Regions from separate parts of the Homo sapiens genome. Here region 2 is linked to region 1. The links come from fine-mapping of genetic effects on gene expression. Tissue or cell type: substantia nigra. Region 1 holds a variant in brackets; the other region holds the start of a gene. All regions are shown on one strand. Distances are from middle to middle.

Evidence for each region. PIP is the estimated chance that this variant, and not a neighbour inherited with it, causes the effect.
Region 2: it holds the start of SPIRE2, and the variant in region 1 is fine-mapped to the expression of SPIRE2 in substantia nigra (GTEx, PIP 0.97).

The regions. Positions count from the first base shown.
Region 1 is chr16:88,884,707-88,892,706 of GRCh38, reverse strand. CBFA2T3 (CBFA2/RUNX1 partner transcriptional co-repressor 3) reads left to right here. Exons shown (of 12, transcript NM_005187.6): 4 at 222-463; 5 at 736-825; 6 at 6,565-6,746; 7 at 7,438-7,661. LOC101927793 (a long non-coding RNA gene) reads right to left here. Exons shown (of 3, transcript NR_135194.1): 2 at 7,863-8,000; 3 at 5,571-6,965. Among named protein-coding and RNA genes, the nearest start is that of PABPN1L, 22 kb to the right of the region's middle. RefSeq lists an enhancer at 1-492. The variant C/A (reference allele first, on the strand shown) is at 3,278.
Region 2 is chr16:89,823,621-89,831,752 of GRCh38, reverse strand. SPIRE2 (spire type actin nucleation factor 2) reads right to left here and starts at 3,278. Exons shown (of 15, transcript NM_032451.2): 1 at 2,959-3,278. The coding sequence starts at 3,202. RefSeq lists a silencer at 3,135-3,224.

The DNA of each region.
Region 1 (8,000 bases):
CCGGAAGGACAGATGGTCAGCATGCTAAGGGCCAGCTCAGCTGCCCTGGGCGGGCCCAGGGCTCCTGCTGTCATCCTCAGCGCTACTGTCCTTGTGTCTCATCATTGTTGCCGTCACTTTTGACATTGTCACCTTAGTCGCTGCTTCCCTCACTGTCGCCGCCGTCTGGGTTGTGTTGTCACCATCACCTTTGTGTCCTCATGTCCGCTTCCCTCCTGCAGTGATGAACGGCAGCAGCCACTCACCAACAGCCATCAATGGTGCACCGTGCACACCCAACGGCTTCAGCAATGGCCCGGCCACCTCGTCCACAGCCTCCTTGTCCACACAGCACCTGCCCCCAGCCTGCGGGGCCCGGCAGCTCAGCAAGCTCAAGCGCTTCCTCACCACACTGCAGCAGTTTGGCAGCGACATCTCCCCAGAGATTGGGGAGCGCGTGCGCACACTGGTGCTGGGCCTGGTGGTGAGTTGGGCAGGGACAGCCGGGGCCTTGGGACATGCATATTCCCTCCGTTTAATGAGGTTGCAGCCACGGCCACTCCTTACATGGGCTCCACGCTGACAACCGGGCGTGGACCCGCTCCCACGATGCCACCTGCACCCTCTCAGGCCGTGCCCAGCTCCTGGGCTGCCTGCCTGCCTCCAACACGGAAGCCTCCTCCTCAGGCATGGGTGGGTCGGCGCTGGCTCACATGCCGAGCGGTGCTGATGTGAGGTGGGTTTTCTCCCCTGCAGAACTCGACATTGACGATCGAGGAGTTTCATTCCAAGCTTCAGGAGGCCACCAACTTCCCTCTGCGGCCGTTTGTCATTCCCTTCCTGAAGGTAATGCGAAACCCGTCCCCCGTGCTGCGGGAGCCTCCCTAGAAGGCCCCTTAATCCCACTCCTTGCCAGCGTGGACAGCGGTGGACAGGCGGGAAGGGGCTTAAGTGGCCAGATAGGCAGGTGGATGAAGAGGTGTGAGGCATCGATCTTGGCCAACCTGGGACCCTGTGGTACCCTAGGGGAGCACTGCTGACTAGTCAGGGTTGACTCCTACTAGTTAAGGCCTGAAAATTAGTTGCCAGACCGGATGATTATCAGCCCTTAAATCCAGCACAGGACAGAGCTGTCCGGTTCGCCTCTGGTTGCCGTTGGCCGAATGTGCTCGCTCACTCCACGGGTGATTTTTGAGCACTGACGACGTGCCAGTGTGGGGGCAAGGCTCGGGGATAGGGCCCAGGACATGCAGCAGGTCCCTCCTGGAGCCAGCACCCTGGGGTGGGAAGGCGTTCGGTCCACAGCCACTCTCAAATCTGCAGCTGCACGTGGTGGAGAAGTATTCCGAAAGTCCTTTGCTTGGAGGCGTGTTGGTGAGGGCTGAGGATGAGGGCGGAGCTAGGTGCAGAGCCAGCGCAGGGTTTTCCAGACAGCAGTAACTGCACGTGCAGAGGCCCTGAGGTATGGGGCGCCCGCTGTGCTTGAGGAACAGCAGAGGGGTCAGTGTGACTGGAACAGAATACGTGGGGTGGAGAGAGCAGAGGTGAGGGCGGGAGGTGAGGGCGGTAGACAGGCGGGAAGGGGCTTCTGTGGCTGCGCAGGCCGATGGATGAAGAGGTGTCAGGTGAAAGCAGGTCAGATGGTCACACCCAGATCAACCGTGGACCAGGGTGGCAGCACGCGGGGCTTGTCAGCTTTGCAGGCTCTCGGCCCGGCCCAAACCTGCTGAATCAGAGCCTGCATTTTTAAAGATGCCAGTCTGAGGAACGGGGATTGCTTGAGGCCAGGAGTTCAAGACCAGCCTGGGCAACACAGCTAGACCCCATCTCTACAAAAAATATAAAAATTAGCTGAGCGTTGTATGCACCTATGATCCCAGCTACCCGGGAGGCTGAGGTGGGAGGATTGCTTGAATCCAGGAGGTCGAGACTGCAGTGAGCTGTGATCACGCCACTGCACTCCAGCCTGGGCGACAGAGCAACACCCTGTCTCTGAACGAATGAATGAATGAATGAATGAATGAAGCCAGTGATTCCCATGGGAGAGTGATTCCCACGCACACACAGACGGGACGGGCACGGGAGTGCCGTGGAGTCAGACTGCCATCTCTGCGGGTCTCCATTTCCCCAAGACGGCTGCACATCTCTAGCAGGAGCTGAGGAAAGGTTCCCCAAATGTGTCTGACCATGTGACCTTCTCTGCCGAGCACGTGTTGGGGTCAGGGTTCCGTGGAGCTTAGTTGGGAGCTGCCAGCCTGGCCACACCTTCGGGCCCAGCCTGAGCACTGCCCGTACTGCTGTGGGCTCCATCTCTGCTGGGCCAGGCCTCCCCTCGGGGGTCCAGAGGACAGACCAGACCAGATGCTCCCTGGCTTGAGCCCGAGCCTGCCACTTAGCAGCTGTTGGCCCCTGGGTGAGGCCAGTTCCTCTGTGCTTCGGTTTCTGTATCTGCAAAATGGAATCATCCTCAGGCTGTTGAGGAGACAGCGTGGAGGGACACGCGGAAAGAACGGGGCCTCACTCCCGGGCTCAGGGGAATCTTCCACCTCAGCCTCCCAGGTAGCGGGGACTACAGGGAGGTGAGGCATGTTCTAGATTCACGCGGGGCATCGTCCAGGGATTTGAAACGTCCCCTGGAGGAGGAGGAATCGCGGGGCATCGTCCAGGGATTTGAAACGTCCCCTGGAGGAGGAGGAATCGCGGGGCATCGTCCAGGGATTTGAAACGTCCCCTGGAGGAGGAGGAATCACGGGGCGTCGTCCCTGGAGGAGGAGGAATCGCACGGCGTCGTCCCTGGAGGAGGAGGAATCGCGGGGCGTCGTCCCTGAAGGAGGAGGAATCGCGGGGCGTCGTCCAGGGATTTGAAGTGTCCCTGGAGGAGGAGGAATCGCGGGGCATCGTCCAGGGATTTGAAGTGTCCCTGGAGGAGGAGGAATCGCGTGGCGTCGTCCCTGGAGGAGGAGGAATCGCGGGGCGTCGTCCAGGGATTTGAAGTGTCCCTGGAGGAGGAGGAATCGCGGGGTGTCGTCCCTGGAGGAGGAGGAGTGCTTCAGGAAGGTCTCTCACAGACCTGTTGGCCTCTGTCAAGGTGTAGTGTAGGCACTGCCATGTTCCTGATTAACAGGTGGGGAAACTGAGGCTCTGGGTTCCCCCCAGGTAGTGGAGAGAGGGCGCCAGGGCTCAAACCTAGGTCTGTCAAATTCCAAACGCCCTGGTCGTCCCAGGGCACTTACAGGGTCAGACCCTCATTCCCCTCAGTCCCTCCCCAAGGGGACCCCACATCACACCCACCTCTGTT[C/A]CCACCCTCGCTCCCTCCCTCCCGCCCCTGCCTCCTCTGCTTTTTCCTGCCCTCCCTCCCTCCGCTGCCCCAGTCCTCCCTCCCTCCCACCACCCCCTCCTTTCCTCCTGCCCTCCCTCCTCTATCGCTCCATCCCTCCTCCCGCCTTCCTCCGCCCCCTCCCACGCCCTGCTGTGCTCATGCTCCCAGATGGTGACAAAAGAGAAGCTTCTGGAGTGGCAGGAGCCTGGGCCCATCTGGCGTCGTTTGCAGTTCGTTAGCGGCCCTTCCCTTCCCTTCTTTTAACTTGCTGCGGACTCCACCCCTCCCAGTCTTTGGGGACACAGTGCGCCTGCTTATTACCAACAGATGCCCCCAGCCTCAGCCACCCTTGCTTAACTGAGGATCAGGGTCAGGCAGAGAAACGCCGCAGCATCCCCACCCTTGCCCCCACCAGGCCTACGGCCCCTGTCCATGACGTCTGGTCAGGCCCTGGTGTCCCCCGGCCACGCCCCAGCAGGTGCCGCCCGCGGCCCGGCTCTCGTGAGGGCCGTGTCCACCTCAGTCTCCCCTTGGTACACAGGGGATCCCACGGCCTGTGTGGGGTAGCTGGAGCTCAGGGCCAGCCCACCTCGTGCCCCCACCCGGGGCCCGGGGCCAGTGGGACATGAAGTCTGTTCACCTCTCTGACATGGCGCTTCTAGGGGGAGGCCAGGAGGATTCAAAAATAAAAAATAAAGATCTTGCGGCCAGTCCTGCTTCCAGGTCTTGTGGCTCAGATACAAGCCAGAACCCTGGCCCTACTGTCACTGTCCCACCCAGGGAGCAGCCCCCACCCCACCCCTCCCACCCACCCCACCCCACCCCACCCCCTCCCACCCCACCCCACCCCTACCCCACCCCCACCCCACCCCTCCCCCACCCACACCCTTCCCCCACCCCACCCCTCCCCAACCCCACCCGCACCCCCCCAACCCCACCCACACCCCTGCAGGGCCGCAGCCCCTTCAGACACAGAGTGCAGTGGGGGAGTCCGACCTTCCCAGGCCAGACAGGAGGTGCCGAGTGGGAGTGACCCCCAGCCAGTCCCCTTGGGCCTCGGTGTTCCTGACTGTGGCCTGGGCTGGGGGAGGGGTAGCACCTTCCCAAGACATCCACAGCCCGCCAGGCCCAGTCTGGGGTACTCTCACGCAGTCCTTGAAGACATCATCCTAGAAACGGCAGGAATCGTGGCTGAGGGGCCGGAGAGAGTGGGGGCCTGCTTGGCTGGAACCCCAGCCCTGGCTTGGGCCCTCTCTCTCGTAGTTGGGGTGGTGAATCTCCCTCACGGGGTGGTGGGAAAGGACTGAGCTGATTCACCCGGAGCTCCCCGGAGTCTGTCTCGGCCAGAGGCTCCACAGCGCTAGTTTGCAGATACAGCAAGGGTCAGAGAGGTTAAATGACCAGCCCAAGGCCACAGCCCCTCTATGGCAGAGCCCACGGTCAGGGAGGCTTTAGCTGGGTGCTTGGCAGAGCAGCGGAGTCCGCGAAAGCCCTTGTAGCTCAACTAGTGCCTCAGCCACCGCCGCCGTCATTGCAAACACCAGTTCCCCAGCCTGAGCGCCCATCTGTGCAGAGGGCAGCTTCAGAAGTTCTGCAGGCAGAACTTCCGTTCAGTGGTGGAGTTGGGGCATTTTGACCAGCTCAGTGTGTGTAGCATTTTAGTGGTGACACCTCCCCGGGTGCCCTGGGCTCCTGGGGACAGAGTGGGGACACTGCCTTGAAGGAGGCACTGCCGGAGGTTCCCACAGTCCCCACCCCATTCCGCAGGCCTTGAGGAAACATTCCCTGCTTGCCGAGGGCTGCTGTGCATCCGGCCCCTACGCTGATGCTGCCCAGTCCTGGGTTCTCTGCACCCTTTCCTGAGCCTGCCCCACACGCAGCCCAAGGGTCAGGCCTTCCAGAAGCTGGGGGATGCAGCCCCACCCACCGCCCCGGCTCCCAGCTGGCCTCAGCTGGCCCCAGCCAGCCAGGGATCCAGATGTTCTCCCCGCCCTAACAGCGACCAGCCGGTTCCCGAACTGACCAAGAGGAGGCCCCTGGGGAGGGGCTGATGAGGGAGGGAGGATGTTTGGCTCCTCAGACCTCCCGGGACCTCGTTTCCCAGCTCATGCTCCTGATGTCCTCAACAGATGGCCGGTTGGCCCCTGTTCAGCCATCCAAAGAGAAAAACAGGCCGGCAGCCGGCACTGCTCGAGGGCCTGGTGGATGCACTCGTGGGGAATGGGGAGGCGCTGGCAGGAGAAGGCGGCGTGGCAGCTTTGAAACGCATGAGAAAGTTGGGGAATTGGATTTATTTACAAATGCTTAGAACCGCTGGCTCTCCCAAGTGGCCTGCTGCTGGGCCCTGGTCCAGCATGCTCAGGGTCCAGCACGCCTGTCCGCCCTCCCGCGGCAGCTCTGGGAAGACTTTGGGGAAGGCACCCGAGGAGCCCGGCTTGCGGCCCAGCAGTGCCAGCCTGGAGCCAAGGACGAGGCGGCGGGCGCCGCGGGTACACACAGGCGTCAAAGGCAGGGTCTGCATACGGATCCCGTACACCGGGCCGTCCTTCGGCCGCATGCTGCGGAGTCTTTACCCGCACACGTGGGTCTTGAGGCCGTCCTCACCAAGGCTGGAGGATCACTTGAGCAGCCACAGAACGTGGGTGTCCACGTCCTAGGTCCACGCTCCATCAAGGCCAAGGCTGGAAACCAGCGGGAAGGGAAGGGGAAGCTGAACCTCAGGGCTTCCCATCAGGGCTGGAGCAGACACACTGCAGGCAATCCCAGCTGGGTTTCACTCCCAGCTCCCTCGTGTGAGCCGCCTGTAGGCCCAGGGCTGCCTCCCCCTCTCTGAGCCTGCATTTCCCCAGCTGTGTTGGGTCATGTGGTGCCTGCTGGGCAGGGCGGGTGCAGGCGGGAAGACCAACCATGATCTGCTGCCCCTTCGTCCTCTCGCCTTCTCCAGACCACGCCATGGGAGGGAGCTGGGTGCGGTGGGAAAGCCCCACCCTGGGAGTCCAGGATCTGGGCTCAAGTCCCACATGCCCCACATCGCCGTGTGGCCCAGGTGAGGCACTCCTGCGAAGCTCTGTGCCCACCCTCCCACGCCACCCTCCCATGGCACTGCTAGGAAGGAACTTGAGGCCCAGAGAGGTCGAGCACCTTGACCTTTGAGGCCCGAGGTCAAGTTGAGCTTTCGGCCACCCAGCCCAGGCCCCCTCTGCTCGGACCTGAGCAGGGCTGTGCACCCCTGCATGCTACCCAGGCCCTCCTTCCCCACCCCACAGGCAAACCTGCCCTTGCTGCAGCGGGAGCTCCTGCACTGTGCACGCCTGGCCAAGCAGACGCCCGCCCAGTACTTGGCCCAGCATGAGCAGCTCCTGCTGGACGCCAGCGCCTCCTCCCCCATCGACTCCTCAGAGCTGCTACTGGAAGTCAACGAGAACGGCAAGAGGAGGACGCCCGACAGGTACCTGTGGGCTCCGGGGATCTGGGCTGGGGGTGCCGTGGACACGCGGCTCACCCTGCTCCCCTCTGGGTAAGAGAGGGAACCTCCTCTGGGGCTGCAGCCAGCCCGGCCGGCTCTCTCGGGCTGAGGGAGCGTGGCGAGGTGTACTAGGGCCAGCAGGCTTGGTGGCTGCACGGGCGGACACCCCAGTGGGCTGCAGACTCAGATGCTCCGGGGAGCCTAGGAGGACAGGGAGGAGGCTGGTGGGAGGACGGCTCTCCCCTGTGTGCCGGGCATGGACTCCGAGCGTCCGGGGTCCATGGTCCCCAGGTGCCTGGGCTGGGCCCCCTCTGCTGCCCCAGACGCTCTTGTGCTGCTGCTGCCCAAGGGGCAGGTGGTCTCCAGTTACGGAAGCCTGGTGTATCCCTCTCCTCGTTCCCAGAGCAGCGAGTCCGGCTCTTTGACCACCAGGCCCCAGGATGCCATGCAGCTGGAGCAGGGGTTGAGGCTGGCATGGGCCCCGGCAGAGGGGCAGAGAGTGGGGGCGCCGGGCTGGGCTTCCCGGGGCTGGTGTTTTGCTCCGTGTTTCTGTCTCGCCCTTACGTGTCCTCTTTCTCTCTGCCCTTGCCTGTCTGCCTCTCACCCCACCTGCACCTCTGTCCCCGGTTCATCCTATGTCCACTGCCCTCGCCCCACCTGCTCTTGGGGCTAGGACCAAAGAGAACGGGTCAGACCGCGACCCGCTGCACCCCGAGCACCTCAGCAAACGGCCATGCACCCTGAACCCTGCCCAGCGCTACAGCCCCAGCAACGGGCCACCGCAGCCCACACCGCCGCCGCACTACCGCCTGGAGGACATAGCCATGGCCCACCACTTCCGAGATGCCTACCGCCACCCAGACCCCCGGGAGCTACGAGAGCGCCATCGGCCGCTTGGTGAGCAGCCCGGTGGGGCGGGAGCGTGGACGCGTGTTACAGGAGCACACATGCGCCCACATGTACACCTGAGCATGTGGGCACAGGGCACCACGGGCAGCTGTGTGCACCTGAGCTCGGGAGACCCCTTCCCCCTGCCTGGCATTCCCCCTGGAGCAGAGCGGTGGCTGCAGAGGGGCCTGTCCTGGGCCCTGAACCCACCTCTCCCCCCGGGGTGGGCGGCCTCGGGCCTGGAACTGCCCACGTGGTTCTCATCCGAGCTTGGCGATTCCCACAGTCCACCCACAGGTGAGTCACGTGGCTCTCTGCTTCTCAGTTTCCTCCTCTGTCACCTGGGCC
Region 2 (8,132 bases), 940 kb before region 1:
CGTGGGGCATCCTAGCGTAAAGAGCGGGGCCTGCCTGTGAAAAAGTTTAGCATCCAGGCCAGGCGTGGTGGCTTACGCCTGTAATCCCAGCACTTTGGGAGGCCGAGGTGGGCGGATCATGAGGTCAGGAGATCGAGACCATTCTGGCTAACACAGTGAAACCCAGTCTCTACTAAAAATACAAAAAATTAGCCGGGCGTGGTGGCGGGCGCATGTAGTCCCAGCTACTCGGGACGCTGAGGCAGGAGAATGGCGTGAACCCAGTAGGCGAAGCTTGCAGTGAGCCGAGAACGCGCCACTGCACTCCAGCCTGGGCGACAGAGCGAGACTGTCTCATAAAAAAAAAAAAAAAAGAAAGAAAGAAAAAAAGTTTAGCATCCAAAGTTGACAAGAAAAAACATTCAAAAAATAGGGTCACGTGTAAAGTAGCCAATCAGGGTGAAGAGGGCAGGTGACGGAAGGAAGGGCCATCCCACCCACCTTGCACATGGACCACACAGACCCTCATTAGCACCACGTCTGAGATGTATTTGAGAAACCACCCAGCTGGGCGCAGTGGCTCACGCCTGTAATCCCAGCACTTTGGAAGGCCGAGGTGGGCAGATCACGAGGTCAGGAGATCGAGACCATCCTGGCTAACACGGTGAAACCCCGTCTCTACTAAAAATACAAAAAATTAGCCGGGCGTGGTGGCGGGCGCCTGTAGTCCCAGCTACTCGGGAGGCTGAGGCAGGAGAATGGCGTGAACCCGGGAGGTGGAGCTTGCAGTGAGCAGAGATTGTGCCGCTGCACTCCAGCCTGGGCAACAGAGCGAGACTCCCTCTCAAAAAAAAAAAAAAAAAAAGATTCTAAGCAGTTACAAAGTCTTCAGAGTAAAGATTAGGAAGTCTCTTCTAGTCATTTTTTTCCTAATCTTGGCTTGGAAATGAGAAGTATTACTACTTGTGTGCTAAGATAATATTATTCATCCTCCTAAGTATGGTCTAGTTTGTTGTTGGTTTTTTTCAAAGTGGTTTTACACACCTACTGCCCATATTCAGTTTGTGTGAGAGGGTGGGTACTGAAGACCCAAGGTTACAGGTTGAGAAATTCAACTGGAGCAAAAAACTGAGACTACAATGCCAACAAGTGAGATTGGATGTTTTCCTATTGATATCTACAGGGAGAAATAAGTATGCATCTTTTAATGTATTTACTTATCACTTAAGTCCCAGAGAAAGGCTGGGTTAGCCACCTTTGAGGAGACAGCTGGCCTGATGTCTCAGCTGACTCAGAAGCACCACAAGGATGGCACAGAAAGTTCAGGGTAATAGATTTTTCTTAAACCTTCAAGAGAGAGCAAGTCATAAAACTCATTCGCCTTCATGAGACAGGGTTATGAACAGAAAACAAAGATCGTTATCAAATAAAAAATGAACTGGACCACAGGTGGGTACCACCCCCTAAGGTCAACACAGTGCCCTACCTGAACTTTGAACCCCAGCCAGGAACTGCTGCCGGGGCTGTGAGGACCAGGAAGGGGCCACACCACCCAGGGATGGAGGTGGAGAGAATCAGATCACTGCTCTGAGGACGCCTTGCACAGCACCAACAGGAAGCAGGCGGCTGGGCTCCCGCACAGCTAGGACAAATGAGGAGCTCTGGATTCTAACCACCCGGCAAACCACTTACCACTGTGTGCCTCGGTTTCCCCATCTTTACAGTCAGAGGGTCAGACGAACCAGGCTGCCTACAGCCTCCTCCTGCTCTGCACTTATCTCCAGGAATGGGGTGAAGTCCAGGCACCCTTTCACAGAGGCTCTGTGAGCATGCAGCCTCCTGGGCCCCATGCACCTGCCGTCTCACCCCACCCTCTGGGCGGCAGTGGGCACAGCCCTGAGGGACGCCACAGTGAATCTGAACGCTGCCACTGTCTGAGTGCCAGCGCAAGCCTGCGCCTCAGGTTTCTCCAGAGGGAGTAAAACCTCAGGGCCTGCTCTTGCTGTCACCTGTGTGGGATACTGCAAATGGCAGGAGTGTGGAGGCAGCTGAGGGGGGGGCTCCAGGATGAGCAGGACCTGGTGAAGGAACAAGGGCCCTTGGGTGGGGCACAACGGCCCCCACCCCTCGTGGCTCTGTAGCTTGCTTCTGTCTGGCCTTGCCCTGGCCCTTCCTGGTCCTCCACATAGGCCTGCTCATGCAAACCCACAGCTCTCAGGCCTGGAGAGAGTGCGGCAAACACACAGCCTGCCTCTGCCCCCCGGCAGGGTACCAGCTTTTGGGGTCATATCACATGCTCCAAGCCAGCACTCCAGCTCTCCAGGGAAGAAATCACTTTCGGTTTTTTTCGTAAAGGGTAAATAATCACTTAAGCTCACCATTCTCACTAACTTCAAGTATCTTTCTAGGGCTTAATTGTTGGTTCTGGTTGATGGTTAAGAATAGAAACACCAAGCAGGTTGTCCCCCCAACTTTACACACCCCTTCCTCTCCCAGTTAAACCCAGGAATTTAGTGTCAGTTCAGACGCCAAGTGAGGCGCAGCCCCCCACCTTCCACCCAGGAGAAAATGCCCCAAGGGGACGCTTCTGTCTCCTTTCCTGCTGAAGGCAGGGGAGGAGTCGCCCCAGCAAAGGCCAGCTCCGTGCTCCCTGAGCCACCGGCCCAAGTCCCTCTCCCGGAGGAAGCCAGGCCACTGGGGAGCAGCCCGCTCCGCGCTGGGAGAGGCGTCAGGTGGGGGGGTCCGGGAGGGGAACGTCCAGGGCCGGGGAGGGAGAGGAAGGAGGGAGAGAAGGAGGGAGGAAAGAGAGAGGGAAAGAGGGACGGAGAGTGGGAGGGAGGGAGCTCCGGGTCCCGCAGAGAAGGGGATCTCCCGCTCCAGAACCGGTCGCAGCCTCTCCGCCGGGACCACCCCCACCCAGGGGGCGGGACGGACGCCCCAGACCGCGGTCCCCGCCGGCTGCCCCGCCCCCGGCCTCACCCGCGGCCTCGGGCTCCCGCGCCCCGACCGAGCCGTCCCCGCGCAGCAGGAGGTCCCCGGTATCCCGCAGGCGCCGGCCCGGCGAGCCCCGCAGCCCGCGGCAGCCCTGGAAGCACACGGCCCACGCCTGCTCCTCGTTGAGCGGCTGCTCGTAGGCCTTCAGCACCTCCTCCAGGGACAGCTCCCAGGGCTCCGGCCGCCCTGCGCCCGCCGCGGCGCCGCCGCAGCTGCCCGCCCGGGCCATGGCGGGGCCGTCATCGCCTCCCGCGCGCCGGACCCGCGTCCATGCAGCCGCGCCTTCCGCCGCGCAGGGTCAGCCTGGCCGCCCCGCCCCGCGCGAGCGCCTCAGGTTGGGGGCGGGGCGGCGACGGGGGCGGGGCGCGGAGGGCGCGGGGGGCGGGGCGCGGAGGGGGAGGGACGCGGGGCGGGGCGGGGAGTGGAGGGCGCGCGGGGAGAGGCCCGGAGGGGGACGGGTGAGGGGCAGGGCGGGGCGCGGGTAGGTGCGGAGGGGCTGGGGCTCAGGGCTGGGGACGCGGGGGCGCGGGGCCGAGGCCGGGGTGCGAACCCCTCCGGGGTGCTGGGCAGGACCGGGGGGAGGGTTGGGGGCTGCAGACATGGGCCAGGGCCCGCGCGCTCGGACACGCGGTGACACCCCCGGCGCTCCCCCGCAGACCCAGACGGCCGATGCCCACAAAAGCCCGGGCCGGCATCCAGCCCGGGACACTGCGGTGACCGCGGGGGGCCTGGGAGGTTTGCCGCTGGGAACGCGGGAGGGAGCCGGGAGGAGCTGAGCAGACAAAGCCCGCAGTGGCCTCCCCGAGCCCCGGGCAAGGTGACCTCCAGGGGTTGTCGCAGGGTGGCTGGGGTGAGGGCGACTCCCCGCATCCGGCCTTCGGGTATGAAGCCCTTAATAAATGCCTCTGCCTAGCAGGGAATGTGCCTGCAGTGACGTCTCCAGGGTGTCCGTGAAAAATAAACACACACGGTTGGCCAGTGATGGCGTGCATCGCATTTGGGGCGTGTTTGTGTCTTCAGGCCGGGTCACTCCTGGACACTGGGTGTTTGCCTGAGGGACGCAAGGGGAACTCGGCTGGGGCTCATCCCGAGGCCTCTTCATAGTTGTGCCAGATCTGAATAAGTGGGCAAGAAAATGCAGTTGGGGCATAAACGGTCCCAAGCCTGGGTGCTGCCAGTACCACCCGGGGGCAAGAAATGCAGATTCCTGGGCTCCAGGGCTGGAGATTCTGATGCAGGTCCGAGGTGAAACTTGGGGCACTTAAAGTTCGCTGGTCTCCCAGGAGTTCTGGACCTGCCTGGACAACACAGTGAGATCCCATCCCAGAAAAGAAGTTCCACAATGATTTTTTTTTCTTTTTTTTTTTTTAGAGACAAGGTCTCACCCAGGCTGAAGTGCAATGGTACAATCGTAGCTCACTATAACCTCAAATTCCTGGGGTCAAGTGATCCTCCCACGTCAGCTTCCTGAGTAGATGGGACTAAAGGCATGAACCACCACGCCCAGCTGATTGTTTTTATTTTTTGTGGAGATGGGATCTCACCATGTTGCCCAGGCTGGTCTTGAATTCCTGGGCTCAAGCAGTCAGGCCACCTTGGTCTCCCAAAGTACTGGGATTACAAGCGTGAGCAACCGCGCCCAGTCCAGCTGGACTTTTCTTTTCTTTCCCTTTCTTTTTTTTTTTTTTGAGAAGGAGTTTTGCTCTTATCGCCCAGGCTGGAGTGCAGTGGCGCAACCTTGGCTCACTGCAACCTCTACCTCCCAGATTCAAGCGTTTCTCCTGCCTCAGCCTCAAAGTAGCTGGAACTACAGGCGCCCACCACCACACCCGGGTAATTTTTTGGGTGGTTTCGCCATGTCGGCCAGGCCGGTCTCGAAATCCTGACCTCAGGTGATCCCCCTGCCTCAGCCTCCCAGGGTGCTGGGGTTGCAGGCATGAGCCATGTCGTCCCGTCCAGCTGGACTTTTCATCTGTAAGCAGAAAGGAGGCTGATGATGACGAATTGTGCCTAAAGTTTGTTTGTTTGTTTGTTTTGAGGCAGAGTCGCGCTCTGTTGCCCAGGCTAGAGTGCAGTGACGCGATCTCTGCTCACTGCAAGCTCCCCTCCCAGGTTTACGCCATTCTCCTGCCTCAGCCTCCTGAGTAGCTGAGACTACAGGCGCCTGCCACCACGCCCAGCTAATTTTTTGTATTTTTTTAGTAGAGACGGGGTTTCACTGTATTAGCTAGGATGGTCTCAATCTCCTGACCTCATGATCCGCCCGCCTCGGCCTCTCAAAGTGCTGGGATTACAGGCATGAGCCACTGTGCCCAGCCATGCCTAAAGTTTTTATAATCAACAGCGGGGCAACATTCACATCTTTTGTTGGTTCCCCAAGCTAAAACACAACCAAAAGTAACAGGAGTGGGCTGGGCACGGTGGCTCATGCCTGTAATCCCAGCACTTTGGGAGGCCGAGGCAACCCGATGGCTTGAACCCAGGAGTTCGAGACCTGCCAGGGCAACATGAGACCCTATCGCTACAAAACTTTAAAAACATTAGCCAGGTGTGGAGGTGTGTGCCGGTGGTCCCAGCTACTTGGGAGGGTAAGGCAGGAGGACCACTTGAGCCTGGGAGGTCGAGGTTGCAGTGCGCTGTGATTGCACCACTGCACTCCAGCCTGGGTGACGGTGAGACCCTGTCTCTAGTAAATAGATGCATAAAGACTAATAGGCGCAGTGGGGTTTTGCAGAAGGAAAATTGGAGATGAGCGGGGTGGGGATGGGGTGCCATGCCCTGAATACCATGTACCACAAACCTGGCACTCAAGCAGATCTCCCCTCCTGATTTGTCCCTGCCACCCGCAGCATGGGTACCAACGATGGGTAAGTTAGGAATTTCAAGTTCTGGCTTAGAAGAGCAACAGCAGAAAACCTTCCATGAGGCATCTTATTCCACAGGAGCAGCACGCTCTACATTCGTGGTAACCAAAGTCCCTGGCCCACACACTGCCAGGTGTGTGATGATGGGGAATTGTTCTCTGCTGATGTCTGAGGCTGATCCTTGGTCCCACACACAGGGTGGTTTCTCCCTTCAGAATGCACGGGGATAAAGACTTCCATTTGTGGCCGAGCGCGGTGGCTCACTCCTGTAATCCCAGCACTTTGGGAGGCCGAGGCGGATGGATCAAGAGGTCAGGAGATTGAGACTATCCTGGCTAACATGGTGAAACCCGTCTCTACTAAAAAACACAAAAAATTAGCCAGGAGTGGTGTCGGGTGCCTGTAGTTCCAGATACTGGGGAGGCTAAAGCAGGAGAATGGCGTGAACCCAGGAGGCGGAGCTTGCAGTGAGCCGAGATCGCGCCACTGCACTCCAGCCTGGGCGACAGAGCGAGACTCCATCTCAAAAATAAAAAAAGAAAAAAAAAAAGACTTCCATTTGCAACACCCCACTGAGTAGGTCTCACTGCTTCTTGCCAGAAGTCAAGGTGGGGGACATTGCTCTCACCACGACTGGCCACCACCCCAGAGCACTCTTTGGACGTGCAGCCTCATCACTGCCACAGTGCAGCACTGGCCGGGGACATTTGAGCAGAAGATGGTAATTACCCTAATGGGAAGCTGGCTGGGGCACAAGGGGACCTTCTCTCTTCCTCAAAGGGCCTCACGTGTCCCTTACCGACCACAAGGTTTTAGGGTGTAATTTGTGAGCTCAGTCCTCCAGCCACTGCTGCATCCTGGCAAGGACCTAGTGCTGACTCACCTGGCTGAACAGTGACCCTTGAGGTCACGTGAGTGGGGTACAGTGACCCTCTCTGAACTGGCATCCACCATCCTACCTGGGATCCCTATGGACTCACCAGCAGGACTTAGAACACTGAGATTTTAGTAAAAAATTTTAAAAGTTAGGGCTGGGCACGGTGGCTCAAGCCTGTAATCCCAGCACTTTGGGAGGCCAAGGGGGCAGATCACGAGGTCAGGAGTTCCAGACCAGCCTGGCCAATATGGTGAAACCCCATCTCTACTAGAAAAATAATTAAAAAAAAAAAAATTAGCAGGGCGTGGTGGCACATGCCTATAATCCCAGCTACTCGGGAGGCTGAGGCAGAAGAATTGCTTGAACCCAGGAGGCGGAGGTCGCAGTGAGCCGAGATCGCACCACTGCACTCCAGCCTGGGAAACAGAGCAAGACTCCATCTCAAAAAAAATAAAAAGAAATAAAACATGGCCGGGCATGGTGGCTCACACCTGTAATCCCAGCACTTTGGGAGGCCGAGGCAGGCAGATCACAAGGTCAGGAGATCAAGGCCATCCTGGCCAACACGGTGAAACCCCATCTCTACTAAAAATACAAAAGGCCAGGCACAGTGGCTCACGCCTGTAATCCCAGCACTTTGGGAGGCTGAGGCGGGCAGATCACGAGGTCAGGAGATCGAGACCATCCTGGCTAGCACGGTGAAACCCTGTCTCTACTAAAAATACAAAAAAATTAGCCGGGCGTGGTGGGGGGGTGCCTGTAGTCCCAGCTACTCGGGAGGCTGAGGCAGGAGAATGCCGTGAACCTGGGAGGTGGAGCTTGCAGTGAGCCAAGATTGCGCCACTGCATTGCAGCCTGGGCGACAGAGCGAGACTCTGTCTCAAAAAATAAATAAATAAAAAATAAAAATAAAAATACAAAAATTAGCTGGGCATGGTGGCACATGCCTGTAGTCCCAGCTACTCAGGAGGGTGAGGCAGGACAATCGCCTGAATCCAGGAGGCGGAGGTTGCAGTGAGCCGAGATCACACCACTGCACTCCAGCCTGGTGACACAGTGAGACTCTGTCTCAAAAAACAAACAAACAGAAAAAGGGACTCAACGAGAAGCACTGTAGAGATTGATGTAGGTCAGTCATTAAGTCAGCTTGGAAAGCTTTAGAGCAGGGGTGTCCAATCTTTTGGCTTCCCTGGACCACACTGGAAGACGAATTGTCTTGAGCCACACGTAAAATACACTAACAATAGCTCTGTGCATAAATCTCACAATGTTTTAAGAAAGTTTAAGAATTTGTGTTGGGCTGCATTCAAAGCTTTCCTGGGCCGCATGCAGCCCACAGGCCGCGGGTTGGACAAGCTTGCTTTAGATCAAGGCCATTTCTACAGTTATGGATTGCCTGCATCTAAAAACATGCTCCT